3 separate regions of the Homo sapiens genome follow, and regions 2 and 3 are each linked to region 1. Evidence: fine-mapped expression QTL. A gene starts in region 1. Each other region holds a variant in brackets. All regions are shown on one strand. Distances are between the middles of the regions.

Region 1 (6,339 bases):
AACATTTTGTAGGTTGTGAAATTAATCCAGGTCACAACCAGCATTTTACTGTAATGAAATAGAAAACATTAGAGTGCATGGCATAGTATGGACCAGTATTGTTCATGAAATTTTTTTTAACTTTTATGTATGTACTAAATCACAATGTCAATCACATTTCTGTGGCTGCCATTTTAAGAAGTTTGAAAGTCACTGTGCTAGACAATATGCTAAACTGAGCTGCCAAATAAGCTATCGATAGCTCAATAAGGTATTACCAATGTAAATATTTCTCCAAGCTAACATGATTTAATCAGTTACACAGGTAAATCACGTGGAAATGACTAACATAACTTAGCATACAATTATATTATTTCCTATTCGTAAAGAAAACATTTCATCCTTTAATTCATTCACCAAATGTTTGTTGAACACATGCTATGTGCCAGGAACACGTGGAACGCATGGTAAAACAGGTAGCATTTTTGTCCTCATGAGGTTTACAGGCTACTGTGGGAGGCAGATTTAAAAAACAAGTAAAAACTGAAGAAAATTACAAATTAAGATAAACGTTCTGAAGAAAACAAACAAAGGTGCTAGAGAATGAAGACAAGAGAGGCACAAGAGCAACGGACATACATTCCTCAGATACAATGAATTCTCAAGGAAAGCCTCCCTTAAAAGCGTGAGATCCACTGGATCAGGAGTCAGCCCTGGCAAGAGCGGGTACAGGAGCAGTCCATGCGATGAACTTCCAGGATAAAGGAAGCAATCACACAACATGCTGGTGGGGTAGGCAGGGACCAAGTCATACAGAACTCACAAATCTTGGCAAGGAGTTTGGTATGAAGAGCAAAGGAAACTTTGGCACTTGTGACAAAATGGAAGGAAAAACTCCAAAGCATCATGAATAAAGCCTACTTATTCTTCTAAAATAGCAATTCTCAAAACTTCTGACCTCAAAATTATTGAAGACCCAAAAATGCCTGTTTATCTGGATTACATTCAGTGATATTACTATTTTAGAAATTTAAAATGAGAAACGTAAAAGAATACACAAGCATATATTCCATTAGCCATCAGCATAACGTCTTCACATGTTATTCAGCCTCTAGAAAACTCCACTGTACACTACTGAAAGAAAAGAGAAAAAATACAAATAACACCTTAGTCTTTCTAATGAAAAGAGTGTTCACCCAAGAGTTCCCAGGTTACACTGGGAATGCTATAAAACAAGTAATTCTGACCCCCAGAAAGATAGGTGAACTATACATTTTAAAATTTTAATTAGTCTCAGATGTAACACGCAAACATCATGTATTTAAACTGAAAGAAAAGTGGCATATAGCAAACCAAATTGCCAGAAGCGACATTCCTACACTTAGTCTTTTTTGTTTTTCCATTTTGTCAGGCAAACGTTTTGACAGTTGGGCCAAAATTCCTAAACAGGATGATAACAACGTAACCATCTGCTAGCATTTACTAAAAAATACTTCTCGAGTATACACTAGACTGGCTTTTCAACGTTTCAATGGTAAGAACTAATCCCAAATGCTTTTGTTATCCATATTTTACCATCTTTTCAAAGTTTTCAAAATAATCACTTAAAAAGTCACTTTCAAGTATCTCTCCACGTTTTTAAAACCCCCAGTGATATGTAATTTTACCTGAAAGTAATTTACCTACAATTTTTTAGAGATAGGTGTTTCATCAATACTGTTTATGCTTGCAAACAAGAAAAACTATCCAAAGGAACTGACTCAGTATCTAAACCTTTTGTGTCACGTTTTCACTTTTGGAAGACGCACATAAAACACTAACAGGTTATTAGACAACAAATAAGTTAATTTAAAACAGGGATTTATTGAGACTTTCTCAAGAAATCTCACTTTCCAAACTGGCCTACTGTCGCACATTCCTTCACACAGGTGAATCTTTTCGTTATGTTTTTGTAATGGGCTTCAAATCAATCTAAATCTGTCAGGATGGCCCCACAATCTTAAACACCCACCCTACAGCGACCTGCCCCGCTCTCCCTAAGTGACACTGTCTCGGGGGGTGGGGGGGGCGCTCTCCTACCCATAGGACACCAGGCCGGCTTCGGCACTTAATGCCCGCCAACGCCAGAGATGGGCCTGACACTTAGGCAGCCTTGCAAAGTAGAGGACACACAGAAGTTCACAGGTAAGTACGATCTGCACAGCGGAGAGGAGGAGCGAGAAAGGGAGAATGACAATAGCGAGGGAAGGCGAGGGAGAAAACGGAATAGGCCGAACACAAAGAGAGTCGGAGCCGGGGAGAGCCTCGTCCTCTCCTAAGCGGGGAGGCCCCCCGGCCTACACCCCCGCCCACCGCGGCGCGGTCCTGGCCCCCAGAGTCCGGCTGCCTCACGTACCTCCGGCGCCTGCTCCTCCGCTCGCTCCCAGGGCGGCCGCCATGGCACTCGCGGGGCCCGGCCTTCAGCCTCCCCCACCAAGCCAGCTGGTGGGCCGACGTGCCTGGTCCGGGCCCGGGTACGGGTGACGGAGGACAGAGAAGGGAGGGGGCTGCAGGAGGCAGAGGCGAAGCCGGGCGCTTCGCGGTCCACAGCTGGCCCTTCGCCTCCGCAGGAAGAAAACAACAAACTACCGCAACATGGCCGCGCGCCCGCGCCCGCCGCGGTGCACCCTGGGATGATGGAGGCCGGGAGGCGGGCGGGCGCCGGGGCCTGCCCCCGCCGAGGCCGCAGCAGCCCTGAGGCCGCCGCCGTGTTTCGGGCGGTGGGCGTGCAACGCAAACACGCGGCAGTCACCTCCGCCCGGCTCCTGAAACCCAAATGTTTGAAGCAGGGCGGGGACGACTGCTGGCCATAGGTCGATTCCGGGTTCAGTCGTAAGGCGCTTTGCAGCAGTCGGCAAAGCGAAGCTTTACGGCAGCCCGTCTCCCGTTAGGAGCCGGGGAGGCAAGGTCCAGCGTACGGTCCGGGGGAACCTTAACTGTCGTTTCTGTGCCTGGACAGTAGGTTGGAGAGTGGGGTCTGAATGAGCTACAGTAGTGAACGCCGACGGCTTGTGTTGAGGGCAGGAAAGGGTGCACACAGCTCCGGCAGGTGCTTCCGCGAGGTGAGATGAGTGCCGCGCGCGCCGGGCTAACGTGCACGCGCACTCGTGCGGCGCCCGCGAGCCCTCACTTCCTACAACCCGAGACCCTCCGGACCCGCGACCCCGGACCCCCGTCCCCTTCTCCGCGCCCGGCTGGGCAGCGGGCAGCGCCGGACCCTGATGGGCTCTCGGCCCTTACTGCCCCTGCGCCTTGCGGCCCTGAGAACAAGACGTGAGCAGGACGGATAGCGCCCGGCACTCATGTCTGAGTTTGCATTTTGAGCAGTGAGAAAGGTTAAGAAACGAAATCCTCATACTTGACATAAAGGAAAGGGTGCTGGGTGGTCAGACAGCTGTGGACGAAAGGGCTCAGGGGTTTTGGGGTGTGGGGCCCGGGAAGGCGCATCTGAGTGGTCGCAGTCGGGGAAGGGGGTTGATTAAGTACACACCGGCTGTAAACATTGATTCCATATCGGTCAATGTGGGGCTTAGGTGAGGCGTTCTGACCCAGCAATGAAACTGGAAAGGTAGGCAGGGGCCAGGATTCCGGACTTTGGGACGTTTTTCTGAGTCTATGGGGTCTATTGAAAGATTTTAGAAACAATTTACATGGTAAGATTTGTATTTTAGAAAGGTGACTGATACAACAACGTAGAGGACCCTGCAATGTGGAGAGGCATGAAACTGGAGGTCCAGTGCCGTGAGTTAACAATCAAGACGTCCATACAGGAGATGCATTGGTGGATGGGTGAAGAGATGATAAAACGGTACGTATAATAAAATGCTGGCCGGGCGCGGTGGCTCACGCCTGTAATCCCACCACTTTGGGAGGCTGAGGTGGGTGGATCACGAGGTCAGGAGTTTGAGACCAGCCTGACCAACATGGTGAAACCCCGTCTCTACTAAAAATACAAAAATTAGTTGGGCGTGGTGGCACGCGCCTGTAATCCCAGCTACTCAGGAGGCTGAGGCAGGAGAATTGCTTGAATCGAGGAGGCGGAGGTTGCAGTGAGCCGAGATTGCGCCACGGCAATCCAGCCTGGGTGACAGAGCGAGATTCTGTCTCAAAAAAAAACAAAAAAATTATTCAACTGTGAGAACTCACTCCCCAAAAAAAATGTTTTGCAAGCAACTCATTGAAAAATGGTCTCTATTAAAAAGCACGTTAATACATCCATATTTAAATGGCTTGAACTCTTTATCACCTTTCATTATTTTTTGAACTGTGGAGGATGGCATGCCTAACTCAGAAAATATTTTTCAGGATAATTCAGTGGTGATCTTCAGAAGAATTCCACAAAAAACCAAATTAACAGATGAAACAATCTCATAAGCCACTTGAAACTGAATTTCTCTAGAACAAGAGTCTATAAAATTTTTTGATCAAACACCCACTGGAAAAATTTTTTAGCGTGGACACCCAGTATTTGAAGTTCTTGGTAAATTACTGTGAGTAAAGATTTAACCAACCCCTTGTCCTTATCTATGAACAAACTTCACTTTGTGTTAACTTTAACTTGTCATAGAAACCTTATGAAGGCAGAGTGTTCATTGTGGTATAAAACAACATTGGTTGTAGGCCAGGCGCGGTGGCTCACGCCTGTAATCCCAACACTTTGGGAGGCCAAGACAGGTGGATCACCTGAGGTCAGGAGTTCAAGACCAGCCTGGCCCACATGGCAAAACCCCATCCCTACTAAAAATACAAAAATTAGCTGGGTGTGGTGGCACATGCATGTAATCCCAGCTACCTGGGAGGCTGAGGCACAAGAATCACTTGAACTCAGGAGGTGGAGGTTGCAGTGAGCCGAGATCACACCACTACACTCCAGCCTAGGTGACAAGAGTGAAACTCCATCTCCAAATAAATAAATAAAACATTGCTCATGGTAAAAATGACCTCTGACATGTAGACTGCCTCTGGCTTGAAAGTACTGAATAATCTTAAAACACCTAGTGGGAAGCCATACCTTTAGCCTCTGTTACTGTCTTAACTGAATGTGGGAATCTAAAAGACAAACTCAGGGAACTGGTTTCCCGCCGGTCAAGGACTTCCAAGCCAAGCCCCCACCCATAATGGTTTGCTCCTGAATTGCATTTGGGCCAAAGAGTAGAGCTCTTCCATGCCTGTACCGCAGTGAAGTGTGTTTCTTCTCCTCAGTCCTCCAAAGTGGAGCTGCTGCCAGGCGTGGCATTATATGAGTGTCAGGGGTTAAACCTAAGAAGACTACCTAGTGAGCGCTGCAGTTTCATACATATCCTACTGAAAATCTTAAAAGCAAGCTTTGCTTTTTTGTAAATAAAGCGAATATAGAAGTCTTTCTCGTCTCAGTAATGATGAACTGGAAATTCTGTTCCCCTCCTCCAACAAAACAGATTCTGTGGAAAACATTTTTTGTTGTATTGCTAGGTTTTAGGAATAATGTTTCCAAAGGATCAAGAAGGAAGCAAAACGCTGGGCACAGTGGCTCACACCTGTAATCCCAATGCATTGGGAGGCTAAGCAGGTGGTTATCACTTGAGCCAAGGATTTCAAGAGCAGCATGGGCAACATGGCAAAACCCCATTTCTACAAAAAATAAAAATAAAAATAGCCAAGCATGGTGGTGCATACCTTTAACTGCTTTGCATAACTACTCTGGAGGCTGAGGCGGAAGGATCATCTGAGTCCAGGAGTTCGAGGTTATAATGAGCTGTAATAGCACCACTGCACTCCAGTCTGGGTGACCAAACAGAACCCCATCTCTTAAGCAAAACAAACAAACAAAAAAAAAACAGATCCAAAGCCTGAGCAGTTAGTAGTGTACAGGAAGTTCAGGGTTTCACTGGGGAAGTCATCCCCATTTGCACTGCTAATAGGAAGCAAATTCTTGGACAGCTTTTGAGGAGGGAATCTAAACCCCAGGCTCCCAAATTAGGCCAGAGATCCTGGAAGGGCTTTCTCAAATTATCCCCTTATATTCTTCACAGTTTAAGGTCAACCAACTATGGACTTAAAATCAAAGATCACAAAATGCACGAGGGAAGAAACCACTGTAAGTGAAAAATACAAACTAGATTGACCTCCTAGGGACTTTAGTTATTAAAATTACCATAAAGGACAATATTTGAAAGGTTTAAGGAAATAAAGGATGAAAAAAATCAAGAAGAGACTGTCTAGAGTAGCCAGAGAGTGCTTCCTTTTTGTTGTATCTGAACAATGTCCTAAAGCCATTAGGCAGCACTAGTGGTATAGCAGGGCTGGGAGAGGTGGGGAGGGATGTGCTGGCCAGGCTAGAGG
Region 2 (6,339 bases), 190 kb before region 1:
CTTGTCTCAACTCAGTTTCCTAAGACAGGGATTTCAGAGCAAGCAGTTGTGGGGCGGTGACCCCAGGAGTTGATGCAGGGTGACTGACAGGCAGGTCCCTGGCGCAGACAGTGGGGCTCTGTCCCGCCAGGAGCTCTGGTGATCAGCACAGGACACAGCTGGGTCAGCCCACCAGGGACTGGGGCTTATCCTCCAGCATCCGTCTGCCCTGGACCAAGGGCTGCTCCCAGAACCTGAGCCCGTGGCCTCCTACCCACAGGTGGTGTCACAGGTGCCTGGGGAGGGTGACCTGGGCGTGGCTGGAACTAGGGATGCTGAGGAGGTGTGGGCAGGTTCTTGCAGTGGGGACATGAGAGATGTGAAGATACACACTCGTCAAATGGCAACGGGTGTGCTGTTTCAAAGCTAGGGAAACTGAGGCCTAGAGACACAAGGAGCACTGGCAAGTTTCCTAGGAGCATAGACCAGGAGCCTGGACTGGAAGTGACTGGGCCCAGGGGACCCTGAGCTCAGGGAGAGAGGGCAGCCGCCCAGCTCGGGCCCCATGCCATCCCCCTTGGGCCTCGCCTGTGTCGTCACCATCTGCAGGCACCAGGGCCTTCCCTGTGGCTCAGAAGTCTGTCCTCAGAGTGTGTTTTTGTCCATCATTTCAGAAGATAAACTAAAGGAGTTATGAGAATTCCAGGAAATTATATATATAGGAGTCATTTCCTACGTATAATCTCTAAACATATCGTTTTGTAAATAATTTTTATTATATACAGAAATTGGAAGAATTATAGGAAGGAGCCAGGTACAGTGGCTCATGCCCATAATCCCATTTCTTTGGGAGGCCAAGGCAGGAGGATCGCTTGAGCCCAGGAGTGCAAGACCAGCCTAGGTAACATAGTGAGACCCCATCTCTGCGAAACATAAAATTAAAAAAAAAAAATTAACCAGGCCTGGCGTGTGCACCTGTGGTCCCAGTACTTTGGGAGGCTAAGGTAGGAGGATCGCTTGAGCCCAGGAGGTTAAGGCTGCGGTGAGCCAAGACTGCACCACTTACTCCAGCCTGGGCAACAGAGCAAGACCCTGACTGCTCCTTCCCACCAAAAAAGAACTATAGGAATGAACTCAGAGACCCTGACTAAGGGCAGGGGCTCAGAGACAGTCACTGTCTTCACAGAGCAACATGATAAAGGGCTGGCTCTGCGGAGGGAAACTCTGAGAACGGCCACCAGCCCCGGGCCTTCCCCTCTCACCACCCAACCCTTGAGGGAGGCCTCACCCCTCACTCTGCCTCCGCTGTTGACCTGGCTCCTGCGAAGCGAATGCAGATTCCAGTCGAGGAATGCACACCTAGACACACACCCAGGAGAGCTGCACACATCACAGCCACAGTAGCACGGCTCACAATGGCCAAAAGTGGAGAAAACACAAACATCCATTGTGGACAAACGGACACACAAAACGCTCCTCCGTGCCCTGTGGTGTCGCTCAGCCACAAAGTGACAAGGAGCCCCATCATACACCACAACACAGGCGAGCCTGGAAGCATCGTGCTGTGTGACTGTTCTAAAGAAGCTGCCACAGGGACCTTGCATTGTGCCATTTCATTCATGCCAAATGTCCAGACGAGGGAAACCTGCAGAGCCAGAGAGTGGATCTGTTGGGAGAGGCCGGGGGAAGGGAGGGTTAGAGCCCAAGGTTACTTTTGGAGGTCATGAATAGCTCCGAAACTGTGGTGATGGCTGCACGTATCTGTGAATATGCTGAAAACCACTGGATTATACAATTCAAACGGGTCAATGTATGGTGAGCGTATTACATCTTGAAAAATCTTTTTTTTTTTTAAGTGACAGCTCATGGACCCAGAAAACCACCAACCAATTCCCGCTATGGGCTTAAGGAGTGGCCTAGCAGTCTATGAATGGGGCTTGGCCCACTGGGCAGCCCCCGTCCTCCCATCCCCCCAGGTCCTTCCAGAGCACTCCATCCCCACTGAGCCACACTGAGCCTCATCTAGCAAATGGCACTTTTTTGAGAACCAAGCTCTCCTTAAAGAACAGAGCAGGAAACTCACAGTGCACTTGCAAACCTCTGGCCTTTAGAATGCCAGCTGCCAGAGACCTCTGTCACCCCAGATGTGTCAGCTGGCCCCCAGCTGCATGCTCCCCACTCGGCCCCAAAGAGGACAGGGTGGAGGCATGGCTGGACTTCCCAGGCAGCAGAACCAAAGACCGTTTGGTTTTTCAGGAGGAAGCGGGTGTCCCCAGGCTTTGGCACCCTCCATCAGAAACGCCACTGCGTGTCCAAAGCCTCAGGCTTTCTTGGGAGCAGCTTTCCGTGATGGGAGGGACAACCCACCAGCTGTCACCACTCAGCGCAGAGGCAGGCAGGTTCCCAGGGCACTGCCTGGGAATTCCGATGGGGGTGGTGCAGACTCGGCCTCAGGTTCCCAGCAGGTGCGGCTGGACAACCAGTCAAAGAGCCCCCAAAGAGCAGCCTCACCGCAGCCGTGCCCACAAAGGATCCCCAGCACGCCGAAATGCCACGAGACATCATTGTGCAACTAGCCAAGATTTCAAATGTCTCCAGAGCTTAAGCCAAGTTCCATTTTGCTGTTAGTTTCTGCTGAGATGCACAGAAGTTTGTAAAAAAGGCTGTTTTCAGGATTCACCAAAGAAATTGTTTGGGGGACTCTAAATGCCTGCAAGATCCAGAATTGGTATTTTTGAAAATTATTCCATAGCCTAAACCCACAGTCTCTGAGAAGCAAGCCATGGCGGGCAGAGGGTGTGAGGCCATCAGAGGCCTGCGCCGCAGCCCCCCCTCCAACTCACTTCCCCACTCTGAGCCACACAGCTTTGGGATCCGTGAAACTCAACCCTGGCTACACATCAGAATCACCTGGAAGATAATTCCTGGGCTCCATCCCAAACAAATTAAGTCATGGCTTCTGGCAGTGAGGCTAGGCAGAGGCATTTTTCTAGAACTTTCCAGATGATTCTAACGTGCAGCTGAAGTTGAAAACCTGATGAGATTGGCTGGGGCCTCGGTTCCTTCCAGCTCCAACATCCTTTGGCGCTTCTCTGTCACTCTGGAAGATTCTCTTCCCCCGGAAACTGAAGCAAATGCAGGGTCAGAGCAGCATTTGACCCAAGGAAGTGCCAAGCCCATCTCAGCAAAGTCACAGAGCAGGACTGACCTGCTGGGCTGAAGACAGCAGCATGGGCTACACCGGGGTAGCGACTGCTCTCACTCCTTGTCAGGACCACCGGGGCTGCTCATCCAACTGCAGGGAGCACCGAGGCAGGAGATCCATGTGGGGAGGTCTCAGGGCCAGGGCCAGGGTGGGGGCTGGAAGGTGAGTAGACGCAGAGAAAATCTCTGGGCCCACAGACCAGCAGATCCCAGCTCTCCAGGGTCACTCAAGACTGGCTGAGCCTTGACCCAGTCCC[G/A]TTTCTCCTTGACATCTAGAAGCTTTGCCTCACAGGCACCCTCCCTGCCCCCAGCTCTCCTCCCAGCCCAGCTCCTGGGGAGCTGTCTAAGGCCCAGCTCCTGCGGGGAGGCAAGGGGCAGGGAACTTCTGGCTCCAGCTCACTCCTTCTGCCACCTCGGGGTTGGGAAAGGGGCTGGTCCTCACCTCGTGTTCCTGAAGAGCTCTGAGATGTGAGCTCCCGCCGGTCTTAGGAGGATACTGGAAACTTGGAACTAACCTTCCTCTAAATGTTAAAATGTCTTGTATGTCAACCATTTTGCATGCAAATGTTTCTCAAGAAGGATTACAACATTTCTCTGCATCACTGAAGCCCGCTTTGGACAAAGCTGCCTTCCTCACGTGCCTGTTCCTTGCTTTACACAATCGCAAAGTCTGGCGGGACTGAAGGCAGGAGCGAGCTGAGCACCCTGAATGGTCGGGTGTCCCCAGCCTGCTGGCCAGGAGTCCCTTCGCCCAGCTTGTATCATTTTTCGATCTCTTCCCTTCATGAAGTCAACCTCTAAGAATCCCTCCCCTTTCTGTCATTTTATTTCTGAAACTGCTGGAGGTTTGCAGCCAGATAACCAAGTTAGAAATGTTTCCAGAGCAAGCAGCGTCCAAGTGGGGGTTACTGGTGCGTTCTGAGTACACGAGGCCCCTGCAGAGATGGGGTGTGTGAGGGTAAACAGTTTGTGTGTTTGCAGAAGGCCTGATGGAATTTTCCCACCAGAATTGTAAGGATTGCACCAGCTGATTCCAGCCTCCATAGGAGGAAAGTCCATGCAGAACCAGCGCTGAAATGGCCGGCTCACCGCTTTCGGAACAGTCTGCCCTGGTGTCCTTATCTACTCGTCTCTGTGTGTCACTGGCCAGGGGCTTGAAGGGCTGCCCTGGTTTTACATTTGGAAAAACTGAGGCCCCAAGAGGCAAAGAGGCTCCCAGGCGCACCGTGGGAAGCAGAGCCCCCCGACCCCGCGCTCCTCCCACTGCACTCTCTGTCTCTCTCCTCGCTGAGCACAGGCCTCCTGCACAGCGCCCGAGCCGCGCAGGATATGAAGAAAGGAGAGGCGTGCGCGGTCAGCCCACCCTCTTCCTTGAGCGTCTCTGCCAGGCTCCAGGCTGAGGAGTGGGGACCACCGTCTGATCTCTCCGTGGCTCAAGGGTTTCAGGCTGGTGACCACATCGGTATCTATGGCAACAGCCCCACCACGTTCGCATCCCAGAATCGGACCTCCTGGCCCAGGCCGGGGTCTCCTGACAGCGGAGGACTCAGCCAGAAGATGCAGAAGACCGCTGCTGGGAAACCCGCCGGCCTCTACCCAGCTCCACAGGCTTCTGCCCGGCTCCACCGGCTTCCCTCTCCCTCCCTGAGGCTTGGTGTCCTCCTCTATAAAATGGACAGCCCCGGCTGCCCAGCCTCCCTCACTAAATTGCCAGAACGAAGGAGGTGCTTTGAGAAGTGACAGGCACTGTGCAAACCTCAGGGGCCTCTCCCCTGTCACTCACAGGGCACCCGGTCCGCAGAGCCTCACCTCCTCGGGTGCATCCGGGGTGCTGTTCGGGCAGTGGCTCGGCAGAACCAGCAGCCAAAGTGGCTGAGGGCAGAGTCCCTGACCCCCCGACAACCCGGTCAGAACTCACTCTCCCTTGGTGCCCGGAACGCAGAGGCGCTTCGGAAACAAGATTTCTCATCTGGGTAATTTCGGGATGGCTCCTTCGCCTCGGAACCTGACTTCACTGCCGGGGTCCGCCTCTTACCCCATCCCTGTCTGCCCCCTGCACGCTCAGCCCACTCCTCCCTCCCAAATGTCCCCAGCTCTCTCAGGTCCTCCACCTTGACTGAGAATTCCAGATTTACAGCCTGGGCAACATGGCAAAACCTCACCTCTAAAAAAACACAAAAATTAGCCTGCCACCTAATTAACCAGGCACGTGCCTGTAGTTCCAGCTACCTGGGAGGCTGAGGTGGGAGGATGGCTGGAGCCCAGGTGGTCAGGGGTGCCATGAGTCAAGATCATACCCTGCCCTCCAGTCTGGATGACAGACTAAGACCCTATCTATCTCAAAAAAAAAAAAAAAAAAAGACAGAGAGAGAGAGAGAGAGAGAATTCCAGATTTTGGTCCCGCTCATGTAATTCCCAATTTCACTTGGCAAACGTGGCCTCTCCCTGACTATCCTCCAACTTAGCATCAGTGAGGCCCAGAAATGGCAGCACAGGGCAGCCAGCAGGGTGTGGTGATGGAGCTGTTGCTGTAAGGCACGTGGATACATTGATGCCAGAGGTCACGTCCCCCTTGCCCACCCCTCCCAAGGAGGACGTGCAGGGCTGGACTGGGTGAGAGCCTCACTGATCCAGGGCCTTGGACTCCTCCCCTGGCACGCACAGTGGGTGGTGTTTTACCCATCCTCCTACGAGTCACTCCTTTCCAAGTGCCACATCCCCAGAGGACGTGCCAGGTGCGGCTGCTGACTGCGCTGGGGCCCCATTAAGGCATCTGTCTGCCTGACTGCACAGCTTAGGTCATCATTGGACGGGGTAGGACCCCGTGGACCCGGCTTCCCTTGCATCTCTCAGCTCTTCTGGGAAGGAGGCCACCTCCAGCACTAGCCCAGGAGACGAGTCAGTTACTGGCGTCAGAAGGGGAGGCCCACCAGAGAGAAAGAGAGAGTGGGCCCCTTCTCACTGGAAGGAGGGGACGGCCTTTGGGCAGCCCTGGGGTGTGCACCTGCTGGCACCTGGCCTGGCATGTGCTCCAGGTGCGGGAGTGACTTGGGGTGCAAGGCAAGGCTCTGTGCTGAAGGCTTCATGTGGGCACTCTGTGTTCCAGCTTTATGGAGGAAAGACTGAAATATAAAAATCATAGGTATTTAGTGCGTG
Region 3 (5,000 bases), 840 kb after region 1:
ACATGGGGGTTGGGGGGCAGCAGGGCCTGGGGGCGCAGACAGCGTGTAGGAGAGGCTGGGGAGTTTGAAGCAGGTTTTGAAAGGGAAGGCCCTGGGGGCCCCCCGAGGGGTTCCTGGGAACCTGCAGGAGGTGGTGCCTCATGGGCAGTGCAGGAGACCTGCTTCCTGCTGGAATGTTTGATAGGGCTCCGGGCAAATGATGGCAACTTGGATAAATACAAGACTGGGAGCCAAATGAAAACACTGAAGCATTTATAAATCTTTTTTTTTTTTTTTTTTGAGACAGTGTCTCACTCTGTCACCCAGGCTGGAGTGCAGTGGCACGATCTCAGCTTACTGCAGCCTCCGCCTCCCGGGTTCAAGCAATTCTCCTACTTCAGTCTCCCAAGTAGCTGGGACTACAGGCAGGTGCCACCATGCCCAGCTAATTTTTGTTTCGCCATGTTGGCCACTGGTCTTGAACTCCTGATCTCAGGTAATCCACCTGCCTTGGCCTCCCAAAGTGCTGGGATTACAGGCGTGAGCCACCGCACCTGGCCAGCATTTTAAAATCTTGATATAAGTGATGTAAAATAATAAACAAAAGAATTTGGATGGTAGAATGAAGACCGCAGGAAAAAGCAAAGGCAACAGCTTGCAGACATTCTATCAATCGTGTCATGAAGTGCACTGAGAAAAAATTGCACCTGAACCTCCAAGAGACGCCATTTCCATCCCAGGAGTCCCGCAGCCCCCACCCCGATTCCATCCCAGGGGTCCCGCAGCCCCCACCCTGATTCCATCAGAGCTGCTCTTAGTGCGGATGTTCTTGGATTTTCTTTTGAAATTGCCTTTGAGGCCTCATCATAAATATGAGCCTTCTATGTCATAGCCATAGAATATTTGTGATTAACATTTTCTCTAATCAAATTTCATTCATTTACCCTGATCCCAAATAACTTTAGACTGCCTCCAAAACTGAGGAGATCCAAGATCATGCTTCCCTTCTTCCTCAGGGCAGAGTCCCCCAAAGTCAACACCATGGCAGCCCCGTCCTGCAGGCGTGAGGCTCCCTGAGGTGACCTCTTCAGGAGATGGTGACCCCGAGATGTCTACTTTTGATCCTAGATTCACGTATATTAATCTCTGAGATTCCCTACTCAGGGATGCTCCATTCCGAACTCGCCAGACCCCAGAACCAGTGAGTGATGGCTGGTAGCGGTCACATAATAAAATAATACCTGCATCCAACTCCGGGTGGAGGTAGGGCAGCATGGGAGGCTGGACCCCTGAGGGATGTTGAGTGCATGGAGCCATGCCTCAGCGGGGAGTATGTTAAGGAGACCCTCAGCAGAGGGAGAAGGAAAGGGCCCCCGGCACAGACAGTCCTCCAACATCCTTGGCCTTACACTGAACAGGGGACCCCAGGGTCTCTGCTGACCTTGGCAGAAGCGTCATTCACATTCTCGCACGTGACCAGATAGAGCAAGGTTCCACCAGGCCTGATGGGAACCTCTGCACTCACCAGCGCCATGCCCTGCCCTGCCTTCGGGAACCACCTTCAGATTCCTTGGGGTCCTCGAAAACGCAAGTGTGCCCAGCCCTAGAGGCTGTCACCCCACGGCCTCTAGCAGGCCAGTTTCTAGTTCAGCTCCGGAAACTAGCAGGACTTACCTGGGACGAGGACACCGTGATGTGATAGAATTTCCCTCGTCCTCCCTGGGGGATGGCTCTGATGAAGAAAAACTTTCGGCCATCCTTGGAGAACACAGGTTCTTCATTCTGTGGACAAAGGCCACGGATGAAACCACAACTAAAACATCATTTATTCTGAAGAGGTTGAACCAGGATAAAATACACCCCGAGATACATTTTCTATGTGATTTCTAAGGAGAGGAACAGTTGAAATAATAAGTGCTTGATGAGGCCGTCACTTTCCTCGGGAATCATGAGTCAACTGTTACGTTTTCTAAAAGAAGAAGATGGAGGAATTAAGAGGCTACAGCCCCGGCAGTGGCAAATAAAAAGGCATCCCTCAGTCTACACAGCACCGAGACAAAGCCCAGCCCCATGTGCACGCCAAGCTCACCAGTGAGAACAGGAACTCTGCTCTCAAAACTCAAAAGGAGGTGCTTCCTCCTTGAATTATTGCCCATTGAAACCAGAGTGTATTGTGAGATTTCTCCAGTGGCATTTATTATATATCAGAAAAAAACATAATTCTCAACAATCCCAAACCAGATTTTGCCTAAAAGCAAAATCTATTCTTTCAATCCTGTCTTTTCTTCTTATTGAATACAATTGATCTCACACTGAATAGCCCATCAAGAAGGCAAGAAAAAAAGAAAATAAACACAAGGACAAATGCCACGGGTTCTAAAACACAGGTGGGAGGGGACAGCAGTCCCAGGGACACGCTCCACCTCGGGCCACACTGGATGACAACACTTGCTTGGATCTACTGTCTCTTTTCCCTGGAAACAGAATCAGCATGCCCAGTTTTCCCTGGGGGAAGGGTTCCAGGCTGGATTTAGGGCAGGTGTC[G/A]CCACCATCTCTGCCTGGTCCCCGGACAGTGAACAGCCAGCGGCCTCAGCCTTCCACCAGCCCACAGGGTGGCTGTTGCTTTGATGGGCGAAAAAGGATTTTGCTACCGCGGTACCTTGGCCTCTCTGAAGCCCAAGTTTGAAAGTTTCCATCCGTGAACACCAATTAGTTGGTTGCGAGATGTATTTTCTGACTCAAGGAGCTTCACACGAATGCGGGGATGAGAACTAATGGTAAATAAACCCCAGCTGGCACAAGCAAAACTCATTTCCCTACAGTGAGTGAACCCATGCAGATATGATATGCCCAGAGAAATAAACTAACATGTGATTAAAATGACATTTAATCTTCATGAATATTTGCAATAAAATGGAACCTTTAATCTGCAAACATTTATTTTCCTATTTAGAGTTGGAAGCATGGTATTTAAAAGCAGAGGAAATGGAAAAACCAGCGGTTAATTTGGCTTTTAAAATGCACTTCTATTTGCCAACTGTGCGGCGGGTAGCGCTATATTCCTTCAGTTTTCTGGGGGAAATGTTTGCACGTTTGGCAGACAAAGATACTCTAAATAAATGTAATAAATAATTAATTCTGGCCAGAAGCATTGTTTTTATAATAAGAAGGCCTCCACCGTTGTGATGTCATCTCTACCTTGTCAGGGAAACATTCCTCGGAACACAGGTGAAGCCTCTGAGTCTCTCTGAGACCCGGTTTCTCATGTGGTAAATGTATTTTTAGTGACAAAGTGCAATGATTGTTGACCAGGGGACCTGGATTTTATCCTGGTTCTGTCTCTCATTTGATTTTGGGGGAAGCGTTTCTAGTCTCTCTGGATAACAGAATTTATCACACACAATGCCTGGTTTCCTCAACTCCACTCAGCAGATCTGTGAAGAAGGAGCCCTTTTGACTCATGAGAGCTTCTTTGTGAGTTATTTGTAGCATTTTTGCCAGTGTTTTTTTCCCATGGTTCAGATATAATAATTTTGTCCAACCCCCCTTCCAGCCCAAATTTTGAAATCACAAAACCAAAATTCCGATAAAAGAATAAAGACAGTCAGAAATGGATCCATGGAACCGATCCTTCAACCAAAACAATAGGCTCTGGGGTTCTATGGCAAATGCAGATGGTTCTGGCAGAGGATCCTCATGGGTCTGCATCAGGACTGACTCTGCAGGGTCAGCGCAGCAGTGACAGGGTGTGTATGTGGCAGGGGGGATTGCCTGCTTCTCTGGAATATTCCTAGAGGAGAGGGAACTTGGTGGGTCTCCACACATGCATTTTCCTCTTCTGTTTGGCTCATGGGGAATCTCTGCGGGTGACCGTACTGAGGATTCCAGGAAGGAGTTGGGAAGAGAAGAGAGGAGGATGAACGGCTCAGATGAACAGCTCAGATGACACAAAATTAGCAGGCTCGCTACAACTCACCTCTGTTCTTGCACCGGGTCCTTGGAAGATCGGTGGACCTAAGCAGGCCGGGTCTCCCTGAGGTCTGCAGGACCTTCCAGATGCCAGTTTCTCCTGGGCCAGCTGGGGCAAGCTTCTGTGACCCATTGGAGATGGATGGGTAGAGGGCATGTGGCCTCCATGTGTCTCCCTCACTCATGCCTGCAGCCCTCCCAGGAAAACCCCCTTAGGCTCTGTCTGAAGCAGCAGCCAATGGCTTCGCTGGCAGCAGGTGGCAGGTTCAGTCTTAAAAAGTTACTAAGTTGTTCTCCAGGATATCACAGTAACTCGAGGGATGCAGAAACACTACAGATTGTTTTTGAAAAATAGGGTCCATGAATTCCTTTACGAAAAAAACAATGTCATAAGAAACTGTTTGAAATTAAATCTTCCTGCAGACCATGGAGCTGCAATCTTCACAGGTGCAGACTCACAACCTGTAGGGTCTTCAGAGACATCCTGGCCTCCCAACTGCTGCCATGGGCGGGATGCCCCAACCCAGTGTCACAATCACAACTGCAGCTGATGGGCTGACCTGACCCAGGGACGCTCCATCCCAGGAAAACACACCTGTCACAGAACCTTATGTTTCCAACTCATGGCAGCATTGCATACGTTTAAGCAGCTATTTTAAAAATTTAGCTGTGTGCTTAGTAAATGCTTTAAACTTTACATTTGAAAACAGTAAGAATTATTTTAATTCATGCCACCTTTTAAGTGTTGACTGGATTCTGCTTGGAAGGATCTGGTTTCTGGAATCCCATTCAGGCTGTCTTACCCCACACTTTAGTAGCTGTTCTCATATGGGCGATGAGACACACAATCGCTAATACAGGAAAGTCCTGCTGACGACCTCGGCTCTGTAGCTACTCTGTAGAGCTAATGAAGTGAGCGCTGGAGGACAGAACCACGGCCCCCCATGGGCCTCCAGGGACCATGCACTCTGCCGTCCATCCAGAGGGCAGAACTGCAGGTGGCCAGCTGGGAAGCCAGCTCCCCCTGTGAGAATGCCTCTTGAGGGGGACAG

Alleles and levels. Alleles are on the strand shown, and positions count from the first base shown. SD is a standard deviation of normalised expression in the study named. Not every link is listed here.
For the expression in lymphoblastoid cells of the gene that starts at base 2,633 in region 1, G is the low allele of the variant in region 3 and A is the other (moderate effect, 0.66 SD a copy in GENCORD).

The links. PIP is the estimated chance that this variant, and not a neighbour inherited with it, causes the effect.
Region 2: its variant is fine-mapped to the expression of RBM33 in lymphoblastoid cells (GENCORD, PIP 0.95).
Region 3: its variant is fine-mapped to the expression of RBM33 in lymphoblastoid cells (GENCORD, PIP 0.95).

Annotation. Positions count from the first base shown.
Region 1 is chr7:155,640,955-155,647,293 of GRCh38, reverse strand. It overlaps RBM33 (RNA binding motif protein 33), which reads right to left and starts at 2,633. Exons shown (of 18, transcript NM_053043.3): 1 at 2,375-2,633. The coding sequence starts at 2,417. RBM33-DT (RBM33 divergent transcript) reads left to right here and starts at 2,888. Exons shown (of 3, transcript NR_126344.1): 1 at 2,888-3,080; 2 at 3,690-3,826; 3 at 4,324-5,378. RefSeq lists a silencer at 2,306-2,815 and an enhancer at 2,740-3,694.
Region 2 is chr7:155,829,836-155,836,174 of GRCh38, reverse strand. No RefSeq gene overlaps it. Among named protein-coding and RNA genes, the nearest start is that of SHH, 21 kb to the right of the region's middle. RefSeq lists an enhancer at 1-795. The variant G/A (reference allele first, on the strand shown) is at 3,441.
Region 3 is chr7:154,798,116-154,803,115 of GRCh38, reverse strand. It overlaps DPP6 (dipeptidyl peptidase like 6), which reads right to left. Exons shown (of 26, transcript NM_130797.4): 13 at 1,654-1,761. Among named protein-coding and RNA genes, the nearest start is that of PAXIP1-AS2, 130 kb to the left of the region's middle. The variant G/A (reference allele first, on the strand shown) is at 2,524.